4 separate regions of the Homo sapiens genome follow, and all the other regions are reported to be linked to region 2. The links are microRNA targets in miRTarBase. Many come from high-throughput screens and were not tested one by one. Region 2 holds a microRNA gene; each other region holds the end of a gene's coding sequence.
What was found. Region 2 holds the annotated microRNA hsa-miR-1286 (UGCAGGACCAAGAUGAGCCCU, at 1,054-1,074, opposite strand). A microRNA usually pairs through its seed, bases 2 to 8, with sites in the 3' UTR of a target mRNA and lowers its output. Matches are read on the target gene's strand: a 7mer-m8 pairs with bases 2 to 8, a 7mer-A1 pairs with bases 2 to 7 and ends in A, and an 8mer does both.

Region 1 (4,000 bases), not on the chromosome of region 2:
AAGATTTCTGAAAGACAGGAGCTAGTAAGATGTTCTATTTCTTCTGATAGCAGTTTTTTCCTAGTAATTTGTCAATTGCATTTAACGTTTCCCACTGACTTCTGAGACAGCCTCAAGTTTTCATGTCTGAAGGGTTCGTAGATTCTGACATTGTAATTTGTCCCTGCTCTCTTTTCTCTGACTAGTGTACCAGGGCTTTCTCAAGTGTACTAATCTTCTCAAAGAATCCAATTTTAAGTCCTGGAATTCACTATGACAAACACTTCAGAAACAAGGCATAGAAAACGTTGGTAGAGATGCAAGGTACTGCAGCAAGGTGACGAGCACCTTGACCCAAGTCGTGTGAGGAATGTCATGCCCCTTGGCCGGGCATAGTGGCACATGCCTGTAATCCCAGCTACTCGGGAGGCTGAGGCGGGAGAATCGCTTGAACCCAGGAGGCAGAGGTTGCAGTGAGCCGAGATCATGCCACTGCACTCCAGCCTGGGTAACAAAAGCGAAATTCTATCTCAAAAAAAAAAAAAAAAAACAAAAAAAAAAACAAGGCCGGACGCGGTGGCTCACACCTGTTATCCCAGCACTTTGGGAGGCCGAGGCAGGCGGATCACGAGGTCAAGAGATTGAGGCCATCCTGGCCAACATGGTGAAACCCCATCTCTACTAAAAATACAAAAATTAGCTGGGCGTGGTGGTGTGTGCCTGTAATCCCAGCTACTTGGGAGGCTGAGGTAGGAGAATCACTTGAACCCGGGAGGCAGAGGTTCCAGTGAGCCAAGATCACACCACTGCATTCCAGCCTGGGCGACAAGAGTGAAACTCCGTCTCAAAAAAAAAAAAAAAATTGCACGGCCCTTCCAGCCTTTTTCTGCAGGGCAATACAGGGGCTTTAAAACAATTCACCTCCCTTCATCCATGGCCGAAGTTACACAGTAATGTTTTCCAGTATATTGTTTTTAAAGTTTCAATGAAACGATTTATGTATGTTTATTATTCTCTTTGTCCATCGCTCCATCTTACTCTAGGCACCTCCCCTGGATTCATACTCCTGCTCTTCAAGAAAAATTCCTAACAATTCCCGGTAAAGGAGGTGTCATCGGAAATGACAGCTTTTTTTTCTTTTGTGAGACAGGGTCTTGCCCTGTCACCCAGGCTGGAGTACGGTGGTATAATCATAGCTCACTTCAGCTCAACCTCTTGGGCTCAAGTGATACTCTCACTTCAGGAACTCAAGTAGCTGGGACCACAGGTGCGTGCCACCACACCCAGCTCATTGTTTTGTATTTTTTTGTAGAGATGGGGTCTCACTATATTGCCCAGTCTTGTCTCTAACTCCTGGGCTCGAGCAATCCTCCCACCTCAGCCTCCCAAAGCGCTGGGATTATAGGCGTGAGCCACCGCACCCGGCCTCAATTTTTGTTTATACATTTTTTTAAGTATCACCTAATTCTTTATTTTTGTAATTTTGAGATAATTTATATGCCAACAAATTCGCCCTTTTAAGTGAAGGATTCAGCGACTTTCAATTCCACAGCATTCTAATCACCCAAAAAGAAACCCCACGCCCATTCGCAGTCACTCCCAATCCTGCCTCACCCCAGTCCTTGGCAACCACGAACCGGTCTCTCTGCAGTTGTCTTTTCTGGACATTTCGTATCAATGGAATCAAACAGTAAGTGGTCCTCTGCACGTGGCTTCACTTGGCACAGCTCCTCTGAGTGCTGGCCGGGATGCAGCACGCATCCATGTTCTGTTCCTTCACGTGGCTGGATGACGTCCCATTCTTTGGACAGTCAGCTTTGTTTCTCCCTTCATCTGCTGATGGAAACCCAGGTTGCGTCTACCCTGTGGCTGGTATGAGCCGTGCTGCTGGGCACAGCCAGGCACAAGTGCATGTGTGAGCAGCTGTCTTCAGAGCTCCGGGGTGGATCCCCACAAGTGGAACTGCTGGGTCAATTGGTGGCATGTCACTAGCATCCTGAACAACAGGTTCACTGAAGACCCAGCCCCACACCGAGAGCTCCCTCCTCTGCACCAGTGGCTCCCCCTCCACCCAGCGGCCAGTGGGTGCCCACGCCTGCTGCCTTGCTTTCATCCCATCGCAGGCATCTGTCCTTTCTCTCTGGCTGCTGTCAAAATTATCTCTGCCTGTGATACTTGAGTGTGTCGAGGCAGAGACTGATGTTCGTTTCTCCTTGGGGTTCTATTCTACTTCCTGAATCCTTGAAATGCATCTTCCTTCTGTTCTCTCCATTCTCTCCTGGGATTCCAGTCATACACGTGTGGATTTGACTTTCTACACCCTGCCTCCCAGCTGGTCCTTTCTGTCTCCTGGAGAGTGGCCAAGCTCCGGTGACCTCCTGGGAGGCCTCGGCCCGGCTCCTTGTGGTGGCCATCTTCAGAGGCGGCCCCACCACGATGGAGACGCAGAACCCATGAGCGCCATCCCCCTTTCGAGAGCAGCTCATCCCAGACCCTCACCCCCAAGGGGACCCAGCCCAGGATCCTGACGGGGTGGAGCAGGCTGGAGCTACGACCGTCTGGATGGCAACGCGGAACTCCTCCCAGAGAAAGCCCAGAGAGGCCCCGCTCTAAGTCAGCGAACACGGCTTCACGTAGGCCCTTCCCAAGCCCCTAACGCAACTGCCACAACGGTGTAGGTGAAGCAGTCCAGGCCCGGCTGGTCACCAGGGATTCAACTGCCTCTGGCACTTCTATTTGCAGATATTATCTCTGCCTTAAAAAAATCTGTAAATAGTAGGGCCTGCCCCTGTGGCTGCAACTTTCTCTAAGGACCCCAGGACTGTGCCTTCTGGAGCTGGCAGAACTCTGTGGTTTATGAGAACAAGAAGTTCCACAGCTGTGTCCTAAACCAGGTTTCCCCTCGGCAGTGCCTACAACACGGAAACAGAACTGACTGTCCCGGGGTGCCCACACCTACTGTCTGCACAGTGGAGAGGGCAGCAGCGTGGCCTGAAGGCCAGCGAGCCCAACCCCCCAGGGACAGGCACTCTCTGGCGAACCGTCTCGCAGGAGGAAAAGCGTAAGGCTGCTGTGGTCATAAATACATTTTATTTCATTAGAAATGCATAATTACAGTGTTTAAGAGCATTTCCCCTAGAAAAGTAGGTCAGCAATACCCCATCGGAACCGAGAGCTGGCTTTGCAAACACCTGCCTCATGACACTGGACAGAGCACACAGCAAAGGGCTCCCGTCTCATGACACTGGACAGAGCACACAGCAAAGGGCTCCCGTCTCATGACACTGGACAGAGCACACAGCAAAGGGCTCCCGTCTCATGACACTGGACAGAGCACACAGCAAAGGGCTCCTGCTACTCCCCTGGGATTTTTTTTTTCAAATTTTCTTTTTTGTTATAAACACCATAGCAAATTAAAAAAAGCTGTTTAAACAGAAAAATATCATAGTTCTTGATTTCCCGCGCATATGCGACGCTCTCCGCACCGTGCCTCCCCTCGTGCTCCGACACCAACAGCAGGACTCAAACGAAAGGGGTCTCCGGCTGGGGGCGGCGGCGGCTGCTCTTTCAGTTGATAGGATGCTGTTCCCCGCGGAGGCAGCGGCCTTCAGACGCACTTCAGCAGAACACGTGCAGCCGCTGCCTGTGCCGAGGCCGTGAGAGCAGGGCGCGTGGGGGCCGGGCCGTAGGCGGAGCCGGCGAGGGGCTCCTGGTGCCATGGGCACCGCTCACTGAATCTGGATGGCCCCGTGCTCGAGCTGCATCTCCGGCTGTAGCGTGGGCTGCAGGGCTTCGGCCGTCTGCAAAAGGGAGAAAGGAGGGACTTTCTAGAAAAATACCCAGCACTGCATGGCCAGGGGGTGTCATGAACAGCCAGTGACTTTAAGGCAGAATGAGAAACACGCACACAGGAGCGCGAAGGAGCCCTGACGGCCCCAAGGCTCACCCGACTTGGTACACAACGCCTGGCTCCCAGCGGAACGACGCGCCCACGACCCTGGCGCCCAGGGAGGCTCCGGCA
Region 2 (4,000 bases):
TTATTGACCCATTTTACAAATGAGGAACATAAGAACTGGTGTGGGTATAATCAATAGCAAACACAATCCAAGGTCAAATCCAACCATATGCTACTTACAAGAAACATGCCTAAAAGTACACAAAATCTTGCAATTAAAGATATTATCAGAAAAATAATAACAAGTAAAGCAGGAGAAGCCACAGCCCCAGGGCTAGCGGGCTTCCCAGTCTCATGGCCCCAGGGGTGCGAAAAGGTCTTGCTGGGCAGTAAAGGCTCAGCCACCCCCGCTCCTAACCTGAGCTCCACAGTCCTGTTTCCAGCCAGCAGGGCACCTGAGAGGGTACACCTTTCAAGTCACAGACACTGAAGCTAGCAGAGGATGGCCTGGCCCAGGTGAGAGCTGGCAGCCCTGGATGGCACCCTCACCCCAAGGACACATCAACGTGGGCCACACCGTGCAGGATCATCCACTCGCTTGGCCCTCCCTCCGTACCTTGGCAAGGTGTGAAGTGGCCCCTGTCCCAGGTGCTGTGCTGAGTGCCGCCCATACAAGACCAGGCCGAGGAGCCGGGTCCCAGGCACTCACGGTCCAGGGCCAGCTGACCACGGGCAGCCACCCTGCTGCATGGCAGGTGCCCTATGGGAGAGTTAGGAGCCACAGAGGCCTGAGCCAGCCCCAGGCAGCATGAGGATGTTGGCAGGAGCCCAGGAGCCCACTACCAGCCAAAGGGTCTTGGCAGAGCCCCAAGTGGGCAGGATCCTTGGCCTAGCACCTAGGCCTCGAGGATTCATCTTTGGTCAATGCTGGGCTGCCTGCGTGGAGGGCTCCAGAACCTTGCCCCATCCAGCCCATACACCCCTCACTGGAGGTGCACCCTCCTCGGCTCCCACCCCAGTGAGCCCCACACTGGGGGCCCCTGGAGGCTCTGCCCAGTGGAGGCCTCGCCCAGCCCAGGGCACAGCCAGTGCCCCCTTGCCCCACAGGAGGCTTGAGCCCACCTGCTCCTCCATGCTCCACCAGGAGCCAACAAACACCTGCTGCCTAATTATCTGGAGAATCCTGTCTCCACCAAGGGCTCATCTTGGTCCTGCAGCTAATTCAATCCAGCAGCCAGAGCAAGCTGAGTCCCCAGAGGACACTAATGAGCAAGTGACCGGTGGCCGGCCTGCTCCCACCCTGGGGACGCACTCTGAGCCAGGTCTGGGCCCAGCACTGCCATACACCTGCCTCCCATGCCCATCTGCCTGCCTGACCCTGCCCGCTACCTGGTGCCTAGCCCTGCAGGGCCCACATCCACTCCCATGGGCTAGCATCCAGACCTAAGCCCCAGCCCTCCCACACTCCCCCAGGACCCTGGATCTGCTGCATGCACAAGGCTGACCACTGCCTGTGAGCCCAGAGTGTCGGCCTTGACAGGGCAGGAGGAAGTACAAGAGCACATGCTCAGGGTGCACGAGCCAGGAGCACAGACTCAGTGCATGCAATGGGACCCCTGGGGGTGCACACGATAGGCGTGCATACCGGAAACACACAATAAGAGCCCCCAGGGCTGGTCAGGGCTCAGGCAGAGTCCACTGAGCAGTAGAGGGTTGCTGGGATGCGAGCCCCTCCCAGGAGCCAGGGCCCGGCTGGAGGGTCTGCATGCCGCTGCGGCAGAGGAAGATGTGTAGGCACATCCCCATGTGTTCTCTTGCCCTCAGCATTTGTAAAACATGATCAACCAGGCAGGCGAGCGGCCTCTGTCCGAGCAGAATTTATTCTGCTGTGAAAAGACACGTGTGGGTCCTGAGGCTCTTGCCGGCTTGTTCTCAGCAGCCTTGGATCAGCCTCAGTCAGCAGAACAGCAGCTGGACAGGCTCCCATTGGAGCCATCCCAGGGACTGCCCAGCCCTTCACATTAGAAACTGAGCTGGGGGCAGCAGCTGGCCCACGGCACATAAGCAGTGCCTGCTAAGACCACAGAGAAGCTCAGCCAGGCAGGGCCAGTGGGATCCAGCACTCCCCAGGGGATGAGGAATCTAAGAGGCAGGAGAGGATCCTCCTCAGCCTGGGATGTTCCCATTGGAATTCCCCCAGCCAAGGCCAGAGCTCCGTGTCCGGGGGCCAGAGTGGAACCCTTGTCAGAGCCGACAGGCCTTGGCCTCCTATTCTACTGGCACCTGGCAAACTGGCCCAAGGGCTGGCTGCTGCTTCTGTAAAGGATGTGCTATTGGCAGCCAGCCACACCTATGTGTTCACGCATTGTCCATGGCTGCTTTCCCGCAACAACAGCAGAGCTGAGTTGTTATGACACACTGTGTGGCCCACAAAGCTGGAATTATTTAGTATCACACCATTCACACAAACAGTTTGCCGACCTGGTTTGTGAGCAAGCCGAGTGTGGGTGCTGCCACCTTCACCCTCACAATGGCCCCAGCAGTTCACTCAGACCCCCACTAATGAAAAGGAAACCAAGGGTCAGAGAAGACCACGGTCCTGCTGAAGTCACATAGCCAGGTGAACAGAGCCCAGCAACCTCAGTGCAGGCTCAGCTCTGTGGAGACCTGGGCAAGGTCAGCATCTCACGGAGGCCTAGGGTGAGGGGTTCTAGGCAAGAAAGAGACTCAGAAATACTGAAATACTCTGCAGGTCAAAACAGAAATGATCATTTTTCTAAAGAGGCTGTCAGGAGTCTCACAGTCAAATATGCATAAAATAGGACAACCTAACACAAATAAGTTGGGAGGGGTGGCTCACACCTCAGCCTCCTGAGTAGCTGGGATTACACACACACACATGCATGCACACACACACACACACATACACACAAAGAGAACAAAATGGTTGTAAGGAGAGGGGGACAGCAGAGGAAGTGCTGAATGACACAGTCCGGCTTCGGAGGAAAGGACTTGGGTGGCACTTCAGAGGAGACAAATCCAGTGCAGGTAGTTTTGAAGAGGGCAGCCGTTTAACTGAGGTAGGGGGTCTCTGGGGACAGGGCCCCTCCATGCCAGTCCACCCACCTTGGAACCCTGCAGAGGCTGGGCCGAGGCCTCTCCCTGCACCTTGTATCAGGGACTCTGGCCAGGTCACACCAAGGTGGCTTATGACCCATTAACATCAAGCTGCCTCCCTGGGCTGGACAGGGCCTGGAAAGAGGTGACCTGGGCAGATCCGTGTCGATGTACTTCCCAGGACATCAGGATTCCAGCCTCTGCTAAAGGGATCTTCACAGTTAATAACAAAGAAATATTAAAGATGAGAACACTTGGTGCAGGAAACAAGAGAGGAAAGGGAGTGCGGTCCCTCCTTGCAAACAGGATGCCCTGGACCACCCTCCACGGCCTCAGGCCTGGATGCTCCTGCAGACCCATAGCCAAGATTGTGAAGGAAAAGTAGGCTGTGGAGGCATTTTCTGTCCTTGTTATCATCATTGTAAACATACTCATCATCACCATCACCATCCTCATCACCATCACCACCACTATCACCACCATAATCATCAGCAGCAGCATCATCACCATCATCACCACCACTATCATCATTACCATCCTCATTACCATCACTATCACCACCATCATCTTCATCACCATCCTCATCACCATCACCATCCTCAACACCATCCTCAACACCATCATCACCATCACTATCATCATCACCATCACCATCCTCAACACCATCATCACCATCACTATCACCACCACTATCATCCTCATCACCATCCTCATCACCATCACCAGCCTCAACACCATCATCACCAACACTATCACCATCATTATCATCATCACCATCCTCATCACCCTCACCATCCTCATCACCATCATCACTATCACTATCACCACCATCATCATCACCACTATCCTTATCACCATCATCATCCCCAGGCGACCAGAGCAGCACCATCCTTATCCTCATCACTATCACCATCACCATCACCATCATCACCATCCTCATCCTCATCACCATCATCCCATCACTATCATCACCATCCTCATCACAATCACTATCATCACCATCACCATCCTCATCATCACCATCG
Region 3 (5,213 bases), not on the chromosome of region 2:
CAAGCATTTAAAATGGATGAAATCGTGCAAAGAGGCTGCGAGCTGTGCATGCTCCACTGCAGGACAGGCGGTGACTCACCTGGCAGCAGCGAGTCCTGCCACAGGTCAAACATGCCACAGACTGAGAATTTCACACACACAATGGGAGCAGGGGTGGGGTGGGGAGGGGTGGGGGTTTTATGAGTGTATCTATCCAGTTTCTCAATTGCATGTTTGCAATTAACTCCTTATACATAACATGGAATTTATTAAATATTAACAGTTGTCATTGAGGGTTTATATTTCATTGCATAGAACGTTAGAGATGAGACTTGTGGCTGTGCCCCAGATGAAAGGAGGCCCCCAAGGGAAGAGCCCTGGGGAGGAATGCTGCCCAGTCCACCGGATGGATAGACAGTGCCACATTCCCCCGCACAGGGCTCTGGGCCTTTCCCTTGGCTGGCAGAAGTCCTGGCCCCTCTGCTCTGAGTACACCCACTGGTGATGGCTTAAGAACGACTGGAATTGCACAGTAAACAGAGGCGGGCTGGGAGGCCTCCCCAGACCTCGCCCTGGGGTTGTGCTCTTGGTGGCCTGCTGCCCCCTATTGCTTCTAAGTCAACATTCTCCCTGTGCTGAGCAGGGGCAGAGCAGAGAGGAAACCAAACCATCAGTCACAAGGTGGTGGTGGAGGGGGAGAGGCAAGGGAGTGAGCCAAGAGAAGAGAGAAAGGGGGAGAGAGAAACAAAAGAAAAATGTTTATGAGGTATACACGTAAATCAAACTGGAATGATTAAGGCTGTTCTTGAAATCAAAAGAAATCCCCAGGTGTACAGACGAGGAGCCGGCTGGTTGAGACAATGGCGGTGCCGCTGGGATGCTCACGATGGCTAGGGGGATGGCTTTGAGATGGTGGCAGTGTGCTAGCACGCTGCCACCCACGGGCTGGGAGAAGCCTCAGCCGGCGCCCACGCTGCTTTTCGGTGCTATGGCCTCTTATTTCAGCGATGAGACAGTGTTAGGTCCTAATGTTTGTAAAGTTCTCCCAACCCCTGGCCACATGGAGGTCTGCTCCGATGTCACCCAGAGGGCATGTGACGGGCAGGGCCCTGTGCCACAGAGGGATCCGGGCCAGCTGGAATGTGAAGGAAACGGAGCCCAGGGCCCCCAGCCCTCAGTCAAAGCCCCTCTCCAAGGCTGTGGAAAAACTTCTGGCATCTCGGAGGGAGGGCAGTGTGTGCCCAAACTCTGTGTATAACGCACGGGAAGCCTGGCCGGCCAGGCCGCAAAAAGGCGGCTGTGGGAAGTACGGCAAGACACCATGGTGGCAGGGTTTCTGGAGAGGGTTCTCCCTCCCAACAAGGGCTGTGCCTTGAAGGTGGTGCCCTGCAGAGAGCAGCATCTCTGGAAAGACAATCAAAGGTCCCCTGGCCAGTGGTCCGACTTGTCCAGCAGATGCTTCACCCAGGCAGCTGCTGTGAGAAAACATCACGTCCTCAACTGAGGCCTGCCTGCCACGTCCCACCTGGTGAGTCTTTGGGCCAAGGGTTTGCCAGATTGTAGATGCTTGAAAGAGAAAAGGAGGGAGGGAGGAAGGAAAGAAGAAAAGAAAGGATTCTGTCAAGAATTGTAGATAGCTGCTTCTCACCCTCACATTCCTCTCAGCCATCTGCCTGTGCTAGCGGCCACCTCCTCACCCACGGGGTGCCATGCCACTCAGGCTTGGGGAGATGGGTGCTTGGGCAGGTTGGAGGTCACAGAGAGGACAGCAAGAAAGAAGAATCAGGTCAGCCAGGAAGGGACACTTCTTTTAATGTAACAAAAGTTCCTTTTTTTTTTTTTTTTTTGGCTTAAGAGTGATGGAGAAGGGATTTGGTTTGAAATGGCAAACCTCTCCAAGCCCATCTCTGAAATTGCCGTAAAGAATTTCAGGAGAGGGATACTCACGGCAGCACTGTCCACTTGACCCAATCATTAGCCGAATGCTAGAACTCAAGGGAGATTTCTTTAACTATAAAGTCAGTGGTCTCAGTGGCCCAACCACACCATGTGGCAGGACGCAGAACAAAGCTGTGTCTGTGCTTCCTTTCCCTGCTCAGGAGCCATACCCTGGCCCCAAACCCAAGGTAGGTACTGTCATGAATCCAGGCCATGGGCTGTCCCTCCTTCCCCCACTTTCAGCACCACTTGTGATTTCACATCTGTTCCAGGGCAACTCCAAGGAAACATCAGCTGAGCGGGAAGCCGCAGGAAGCCCGCTGTGGGAGGGTGAAGGCAGGAAGAACGCTAAGGGCTGCACTATGGCTACTGTAATTAGAATAAATTCCAGGCTCCTTACTTGGCCTGCACAACCCACCCCAGCTGGCTCCCACCCCCTTGGACTTTACCCCTGACCACCTCTCCCCTCCACTGTGGCCCTGGCTATACTGGCCTTTGCCCTGTCCCTGGTCCCATCCCAGCATCCGATCATCCGTCAGTGCTGTTCCCTCCCCTTTTTTCATCCCACCGCAGTCGTCCTCCTCCCTCAAGCTTCCCTCACATATCTTCTGCTCTGAGCACTTTGTCTAGAGCAGACCCCACTGCTTCCATAGCTCTGCTTCTCTGGCTTTATAACACTCATCACTTTCAGAAAGTACCTTTTTAATTGAATTTTATTTTTAAACTTATTTATTCTCTATCTCCTTTAATGGATTGTCAGCTTCAGAGGGCAGGGACTTGGTTTTGTTCTCTGCCATATCCCCAGATCCTGGAAGAGTGCCTGGCACATACCTGGGGCTTGACAAACATTTGTTGAATAAATGGACGGAAGCCTGGGCCTTTCCAGGGCCCCACTGCTTTTCCAGAGAAAGGTAGCCTGTGAGGTATCACACCTAGCTCCTTCCCTCCCACAACCAGTGCTGGCCCGGGCCCAGCATCTGCCAGCCCCAGGGCTCCCTTGAAGTGACCTGCTCACTGACCGCCAGGCCCCGCCATGGATAACACATACATGCTTGTGCACCGTGAGAAGCACCCTGAAGGGGCAAGGAGGGAGAAGAGGAGGGTCCGAGGGCTATGGGATGATGGTCAGTGGTCCTGGCTGTGCACAGAGCTGTACCAACAGCCAGGTGATTCTCCTCCCACCCAGGATGATGCACTTCCTCCTCCTCCCACAGAGGCAGGGCCAAGGCCAGGGCCAGGGCCAGGGCCAGGACAGGCTCCAGGAAGTGGTGTCCCAACCTGCCTTGGCCACTGCAGCCCAGACAGGGTGAGGGCTCCCATCCTGAGGCCCTTCTGCCCTCTCCCTGAGCTGACTTAGTCTGGGGCTGAGACTCCCTTTCCTCTATGTCCCTTCCTGTCTGCCTCTCTACTCCTTCCACTCTTCTATCCTGTGGGCCACAAGCTCAGCCTGTGAAGCCAGGAGTGTTTTGACTTCATTCCCAGAGCTGCAGATGTGACTCTGTGGGGTTTGGGGACTCTAATCTCTTCCAAGTGGCTGGAGCAAAGGCACCAGCAGCAGACATCAGGGAAGAAGCATGTTCCCCTACAGGTGCCACAGACTACCAGGTCCTTCAGGATGACTTTGAACTCAGTGCCCAGCACATAGACTTCAAGTTGTGAGGTGCAGTTAGCCGTGCTGGGCTCTTCTCCAAGGGTGCCACCTGACTTGTCTGGCACCATCTCAGGCAGCTCTGTGGCCCCTGCCTCTGCGGGGTAGAGGGCTGCTGGGCCCATCGCAGCTGAAGGAAACCCAACAGGCCCTTCCCAGTTCACACTTGTCAGAACTGGCTAGCTGTCATCAGCCAGGCCTTGGCCCTTCACCCCTCCTCCGGCCCATCTCACCCTGATCCTGACACTCACTGTTATACGCAGAGTCCAGAGCTGCGCCCAGGCCTCTGACTCCAGAGATTTTTCCACAGCAATGATACCTCTCTTCATTTCTTCAAGAGCCTGTGGAGCATTTAGAGGAGGGCTGGAGAGGAGTTGCATCCCTGGAGGCCTACCTACAACCCAGTGCCAGCCCAGTGCTGTGAGAGCCCTGCAGGGGATGGCAGATGGTTTGAAAGCCAGGGCACTGGCCCTGGCTTTGGCCCCTCCTTTGCTGGGGACCCCTACTGTGTTGGCCCCATGGTAGGGGCTCTGTGCACAGTGTCCCTCCTTTTTCTCCTCCCACATTCAGAGAAGGGAACATTGCAGCTCTGGGTACTGAACCAGCCGAAGACTGGACTCCTCCCAGAGGACCCCTTCGGACTTAGAGCCCCACCCCCACCCCCAGTGCCTCGGGCCTTTCCCAGAAGAGGCAAGGTACAGGCTGCTTGTACTCACCATGCTGGGCATGGTCACCAGAATGAGGAAAATTTTTTGCCAAAAGCAGAGACAGCTGTGACAAAGAAAGAGGAGAGAGCCATCAGGAAATTGGGCCAGACCCCTCCCAGTCAGGGCCACTTGGCATAGTGAAGGCAAGCTCAGCCCAAGGGGCAGAGATTGCCCGGAGAACAACTGGGCATCAGCAGGTGGGCTCTCTGGCTGGCCTCTGCCTGGGTGACTGAGTCTGGAATCATCTCACAGACCCAGCCTGTACCAGAGTAGCCACCCACCACAGACCAGTTGCAGGCAGTGCATACCTTCCGTCAGTTTGCCAGCTTGCTCGGCTGCCCCGCCAGGGAGGATCTTGGAGAACACGCTCTCCCCATCGGCACCTGGCTGGCCGGCGGGAGCCCCTGGGGTTCCTCCAGGCCTGGCTCCAGCCTTCACACCTAGGAGGAAAGAAATCGCCATAATGAGCTATGCACGGCCTGGCTCTTTAGGGTCTAAGAGGGCAAGTACCCACGAGAGAATCTGAACACAGGTACCCTATAAGGTGGGAAGGTGAGAAGGAGGCTAGGGAAATAAAGAGAAGAAGGTAAGAACAGGAAGACAAGGGGTGGGAGAAGGCAGAAAAAAGGAGGTTGAGGAAGGGAAAGAAGAAGAAAGGGAAAAAAAGGCAGAGAAGAGCAGGAAAGGGGAAGGAAGGAGGGAGCAAGAAGCCATGGTCCCCACCCTGTGCTCACCAGTGCCTTCCTGCTTCTCTGCCCAAAGCTGCTTGGGCCCTAAAGCCCCTGTGCTGGTGACCTCATTGGCTTATTCTAACCCCAGGCTTGTTTTCTGCTGGGGAGGTCTACAGCCCCTGGGGCACCTTCTCAGGGATTAGTGAGGGCATGCAGTGTGGGGGAGCTCAGGGCACAGGTGGTATAGAGAGAGAACAGCCTGGGTGCTCT
Region 4 (5,213 bases), not on the chromosome of region 2:
GGTTTTTTTTTTTTTGAGACAGAGTTTGGCTCTTGTTGCCCAGGCTGGAGTGCAGTGGTGAGATCTTGGCTCACCAAAACCTCCGCCTCCCAGGTTCAAGTGATTCTTCTGCCTCAGCCGCCCGAGTAGCTGGGATTACAGGCATGAGCCACCACACCTGGCTAATTTTGTATTTTTAGTAGAGACGGGGTTTCTCCATGTTGGTTAGGCTGGTCTCGAACTCCCGACCTCAGGTGATCCGCCCACCTCAGCCTCCCAAAGTGCTGGGATTATAGGTGTGAGCCACCACACCCGGCCTATTTTTATTTTTTTAGAGACAAGGTCTCGCTCTGTCACCCAGGCTGGAGGGTAGTGGCACGATTATAGCTCACTAACTGTAGTTAGTCACCAACTCCTGGTGTCAAGCGATCCTCCCGCCTCAGCCTCCTGAGTAGCTACGACCACAGGCATGCACTACGACAACTTATTTATATATTTACTTATTTATTTATTTATTTATTTTGTAGGGACGGTGTCTTGCTATGTTGTCCAAGCTGGTCTCAAACTGGCCTGAATCAATGCTTCCACCTCAGCTGCCAGAGGAACCGGGATTACAGGCCTGAGCCACTGCAGCCAGCCAGTTTGTTATTTTAATGTAAATTCTTAGTAAACAACTCAGGAGCTCTCTTGTCCTTTTAAAATCCATTTCAACTTCTGCTAATCGGAGTGTATATTCAGGGCAACTTGAATCTGTGCTCCTGGGATGCAATCCTCAAGCTTGGCCCAAATAAAGTCTCCGCTGATATTAATTTTGCCTAGGCTTCTTCCTTTTAGGTCAACACTCTTCAGGCTCATGTTGGGGTCTGTTCAGCTGCGTTTCAAAGGGACTCTAGACCCAGGAAGGCCCAGAACCACTGATGCTGAGTAACACCCTTGGCCTTCTGGTCTCAGTTGCTATGGCCTTGGGCATGCTAGGACAGGCAAGTGAGTTTCACTGGGGCATGTGTTGTTGGGTGGATGTTTCAGCTTCTTTTCTTTTTTTTTTTTTTTTTTTTTTTTTTGAGACAGACTCCTGCTCTGTCTCCCAGGCTGGCATGCAGTGGCACGATCTCGGCTCACTGCAACCTCCACCTCCCAGGTTCAAGCAATTCTCCTGCCTCAGCCTCCCTCCCCAGTAGCCGGGATTACAGACATGCGCCACCATGCCCAAGTAATTTTTGTATTTTTAGTAGATATGGGATTTCTCCATGTTGGCCAGGCTAGTCTCAAACTCCTGACCTAAAATGATCCACCCGCCTTGGCCTCCCACGGTGCTGGGATTACAGGTGTAAGCCACCCCGCCTGGCCTGTTATGTTTTTTAACATTGGTCTTTCGGCCACCAAGAGCCCAGGAAGGCCACACGCACAGCTCTGCCAGGTGCAGCCCAGATGTCCAGGGCTCTCTGGTCCAGGACACCGTGGCCTGGTCTGCCCTTATCTCCAGGCCTGAAGCCCCACCTGTCCAACCTGGAGACAGCTATGCAAGGTTCTCTTGCCAGGTGCTGTTTAATCTTGGGCCCTCCAGGGCCTGGAGCAGCTTCCAGGGCCAGTCCTCCGTGCCCCCACCCAAGGACGTCCTCACTCCAGCAAGCTCAGCCACATGCTCAGCAGTCAGGGCCACTGAGGCCACAGCCCCACCGCCACCCACACCAGGCTGTCCTAGAGGGCCACCCCAGCCCTGGAAGCCCTCTCAACCCTTCCTAGAGGCCCAGCCAGTGGCAACAGACCTTGGAGGGGACACTTCCTCTAGAGGCCTTGCTTGGCCTCAGCCAGCCCAGATAATAGCCCAGGAGCAGAGGAAACAGGCAGCAGAGTGACAGAGACGGAGCTGGGCTTCCCCGATAGCAGGGAGCTGCCTGGGTAGCGTGGGGTGCACAGCCAGTGGGGTGGGCTATTTGCTACCACCACCCCCTATTTACTAATGGAGACACTCATTAGCTCACAGGTGCCCTGTAGGAAGCTCCACGTCTGTTTTCTCATTTGTATGATGAGAGGATAAAGAGGTGGTATCCGGGAAAGAAAGGGGCTTTGTGTTATGCGTGTCCATGAGGACAACACTGTACCCCCGAGTTTGGCAGGAGAGGAGAGGCAGGCAGTTTACCAGGGCAGCTCGAGGTGCAGTCAGCCTCCTTCCCTGCCCCCACCTGGGACCCCTGAAGGGGTGGCAGGTTGTGGGAGAGAACCACAGTGACAGAGGTTGGTGGGCAGCACGACTCGGGTAGGCTGAGCACCTGCAACCCTGGGCAGGGAGGCTGGCTCCCCTCCTACTGAGTGTCTGTTCTCACAGACGTGACCACAAGCACCCAGCCCCTCCACCTTCAGCAAGCAGCTCCCTGGATGCACCCTCCCTCCCAACACATCTCCACCTCCACCTCCTGGGCATTGCTGTCATCATGGGTCCTGCTCCCTGCTGCCCATCTGGTGCCTCTCCCAGCCTCCCAGCTTGGGGGCTGCACACGGTAGCCCATGGCCAAGGTGCCTGTAGGGTGGAAGGCAAGCTGCTCATCAGCTTCAGAGAGCCCACTGACCTCCAGGCATCCTCTCTTGTCCCCAACATTCCCCCCCTACTCCTGCTACCCACCTTGCTGCGGCAGCATGGGATTGTCCCACCCTCCACCCCTAGGGCTATGGGGCTCACCCCTAGGGCTATGGGCCTCCCTCCGCCTCCCACTTGAGGCGCCACTCCCACTGCCTCAAGGGTCATTTGCTCTATGAGGCCCTGCTTTGACCTTCTCCCTGACCTCTCAAGAGTGTGGCCTGCCTGAGTCAGCAGTGGGGGCTGACCCCTGGGGACCACTACGCAGGAAGTGCCTGGGAGCCAGGTATTGATGTGGTTCATGGCAGGGCAGCTCCACGCGGTGATGGAATGCGGACTCCCTGTAGGTGGCTGAGAGGCAGCAGCAGTCCACACCTCACCAATTCTTGTGAGGGCTGTTACCACACCTGGGGTGGGCAGGCAGGCAGCATCGCGCAGGGCACAGAGGCCCCCTAGACTCCACGCAGTGGGGCCTCACCATCACAGGCGTGGCTTCCCTGCACCAAGGGGCAGAGGCCCAGGAGCAGGGCCTGCCGTGGCAATGGCCCCCATCCCCACACCCTGCTGGTGTCCCCACTTGAGGCCCCTCACACCCAGCCACCACTGGTCAGGCCTCACCAGCATCTTCTCCCCTCCACAGCTCACCTAGACTCTTCCCCCAGGGAGCCCTCCTGGAATGAGCAAGTGCTGTGCCAGAGCCCCTCTCCCTGTCCATCAGATGGTCCTAAAGTGACCTGAGCTCTTCCTGGGATGAGGGTGTGCCCAGGAGGGGGTCAAGTCTGAAAGGATGGTGGGGCTGGGCCCCGGCAGGAATGCTGGGAGCCAAGCTTCCCGCCATGGGGTTTCCAGACTAAATGGCATCAGGCAGCACCCAGAGAGCAGGTACAAAGGCCACACTGTGCGCCACATGCCATCGGCCAGGCCTCGCCCTCTGTGCTGCCTCTGTGGGGAGCGCTTCTTCCCTTCCTCTTCAGATTGCTGGCTCCTTCTCAGTGCTCAGTAACACCTGCCTCAAGGCTGGGCACAGTGGCTCACACCTGTAATCCCAGCACTTTGGGGGGTGGAGGCGGGTGATCACCTGAGGTCAGGAGTTCGAGACCAGCCTGGCCAACATGGTGAAACCCCGTCTCTACCAAAAATACAAAAACTTAGTCGGGCGTGGTGGCAGACACCTGTAATCCCATCTACTGGGGAGTCTGAGGCAGGAAAATCGCTTGAACCTGGGAGGCAGAGGTTGTGGTGAGCCGAGATCATGCCACTGCACTCCAGCCTAGGGGACAGAGTGAAACTGTCTCAAAAAAAAAAAAAAAAAAAAACTTCCCTTGAAAGGCCCTCCCTAGCTCCCCCTTAATTAAGCAGGACCCCCTACATTCTCCCTTTCAGCCCATCTGCGCCCTCACCATTCTCACCCAGTCTGTGATGATGCCAGAATGCCTGGCGCTCAGCGAAACAGCCATTCATAACCAAGGAGATGGCCGCAAACCACAAGTGTTTATTGCAGAAATCTGGCCAACATTCCAATTGCAGGGCCCCAGCACAGGGCTGGGCAGGTGAGATAGGGAGGGGTGGAGGAAGTAATCTGGCCCAGGGCCTCAGAGCTGTGAGATGATATTGGGTGCCAGGCTGCAGGTGAGGCCTGTGCCATCTGGTTCCACATTCAGGGCCTTCACTATGCCATCCTGTACCACCATGGAGAACCTGCCGGAAAGAGGGGCCCAGCCAGCTGCATCAGCCTGGGCTTGGAGGCTGGGCATGGAGACAGGCAGTGAACAGCCAGGGGCCCAAGAGAACTCCAGAGAGGACTCCCCCCACAGAGGACTCTCCCCCACAGAGGACTCACCACCACACAGGACTCTCTCCACACAGAGGACTCTCCCCACAGAGAACTCTCCCCCACACAGGACTCTCTCCCCAGAGGACTCTCCCCTACAGAAGACTCTCCCCACACAGGACTCTCTCCCACACAGGACTCTCTCCACACAGAGGACTCTCCCCACAGAGGACTCTCCCCCACACAGGACTCTCCCCCACAGAGGACTCTCTCCACAGAGGACTCTCCCCACACAGGACTCTCCCCACAGACGACTCTCCCACACAGAGGACTCTCCCCCACAGACGACTCTTCCCACAGAGGACCCTCTCCACAGAGGACTCTCTCCCACAGAGGACTCTCTCCCACAGAGGACTCTCTCCACAGAGGACTCTCCACTTTTACCTCTTGAGACGTCGATTCCCAAAGATGGACACCAGCGAATCATCTAGTAATAAGTCTGTCTCCTAAGAAGAGACAGAGAAAAGTGTCAGAAATCCTTGAAGAGGCTAAGGGCCCCCACTGCTCCCCGCACTGCCATGTCCCTGTGGCGGTCAGGGGAACACTCACCTTCCCAAAGGCCCCAGTGGGATCAGCCAGGAGCCGAACCTGCAGAGAAAGTAAAGGTCACAAGAAGAATATCCTACCTGGTCCTGACTCCCTGCAGGCCCCTCACCTCACCTTGCCTTCCGCCTTGTGGGCTCGGCCCCACTCGCCAGTCACAAAGGCATCATTAACACTCAGACAGGCCACCACCTGGACTCCCTTGGCCTTCAGAGCCTCAGCCTGCTCCACAAACCCTGGCAGGTGTGTCTGAGGAAGGGGAACAAAGGGTCGGCAAAGGGATAA

Region 1: the mRNA of BANP is a reported target of hsa-miR-1286. Seed matches in the 3' UTR shown: 7mer-m8 at 3,495-3,501.
Region 3: miRTarBase lists BSN as a target of hsa-miR-1286. Seed matches in the 3' UTR shown: 8mer at 58-65.
Region 4: miRTarBase lists PRDX5 as a target of hsa-miR-1286. The part of its 3' UTR that is shown has no 7-base or 8-base seed match.

Annotation. Positions count from the first base shown.
Region 1 is chr16:88,076,369-88,080,368 of GRCh38, reverse strand. It overlaps BANP (BTG3 associated nuclear protein), which reads right to left. Exons shown (of 14, transcript NM_001386991.1): 14 at 3,053-3,779. The coding sequence ends at 3,708. Among named protein-coding and RNA genes, the nearest start is that of LINC02182, 120 kb to the left of the region's middle.
Region 2 is chr22:20,248,092-20,252,091 of GRCh38, forward strand. It overlaps MIR1286 (microRNA 1286), which reads right to left and starts at 1,120; the gene lies at 1,043-1,120. All of the region lies in intron 1 of RTN4R (reticulon 4 receptor), which reads right to left. RefSeq lists an enhancer at 79-680.
Region 3 is chr3:49,663,922-49,669,134 of GRCh38, reverse strand. BSN (bassoon presynaptic cytomatrix protein) reads right to left here. Exons shown (of 12, transcript NM_003458.4): 9 at 4,581-4,712; 10 at 4,282-4,336; 11 at 3,817-3,906; 12 at 1-1,545. The coding sequence ends at 4,296. Among named protein-coding and RNA genes, the nearest start is that of APEH, 7.8 kb to the left of the region's middle. RefSeq lists an enhancer at 2,245-2,539 and a silencer at 2,245-2,539.
Region 4 is chr11:64,320,625-64,325,837 of GRCh38, reverse strand. It overlaps PRDX5 (peroxiredoxin 5), which reads right to left. Exons shown (of 6, transcript NM_012094.5): 3 at 5,046-5,177; 4 at 4,935-4,973; 5 at 4,770-4,831; 6 at 4,027-4,252. The coding sequence ends at 4,147. It overlaps LOC102723878 (a long non-coding RNA gene), which reads left to right. Exons shown (of 4, transcript NR_188518.1): 4 at 507-788. Among named protein-coding and RNA genes, the nearest start is that of PRDX5, 5.1 kb to the right of the region's middle. RefSeq lists a silencer at 346-498.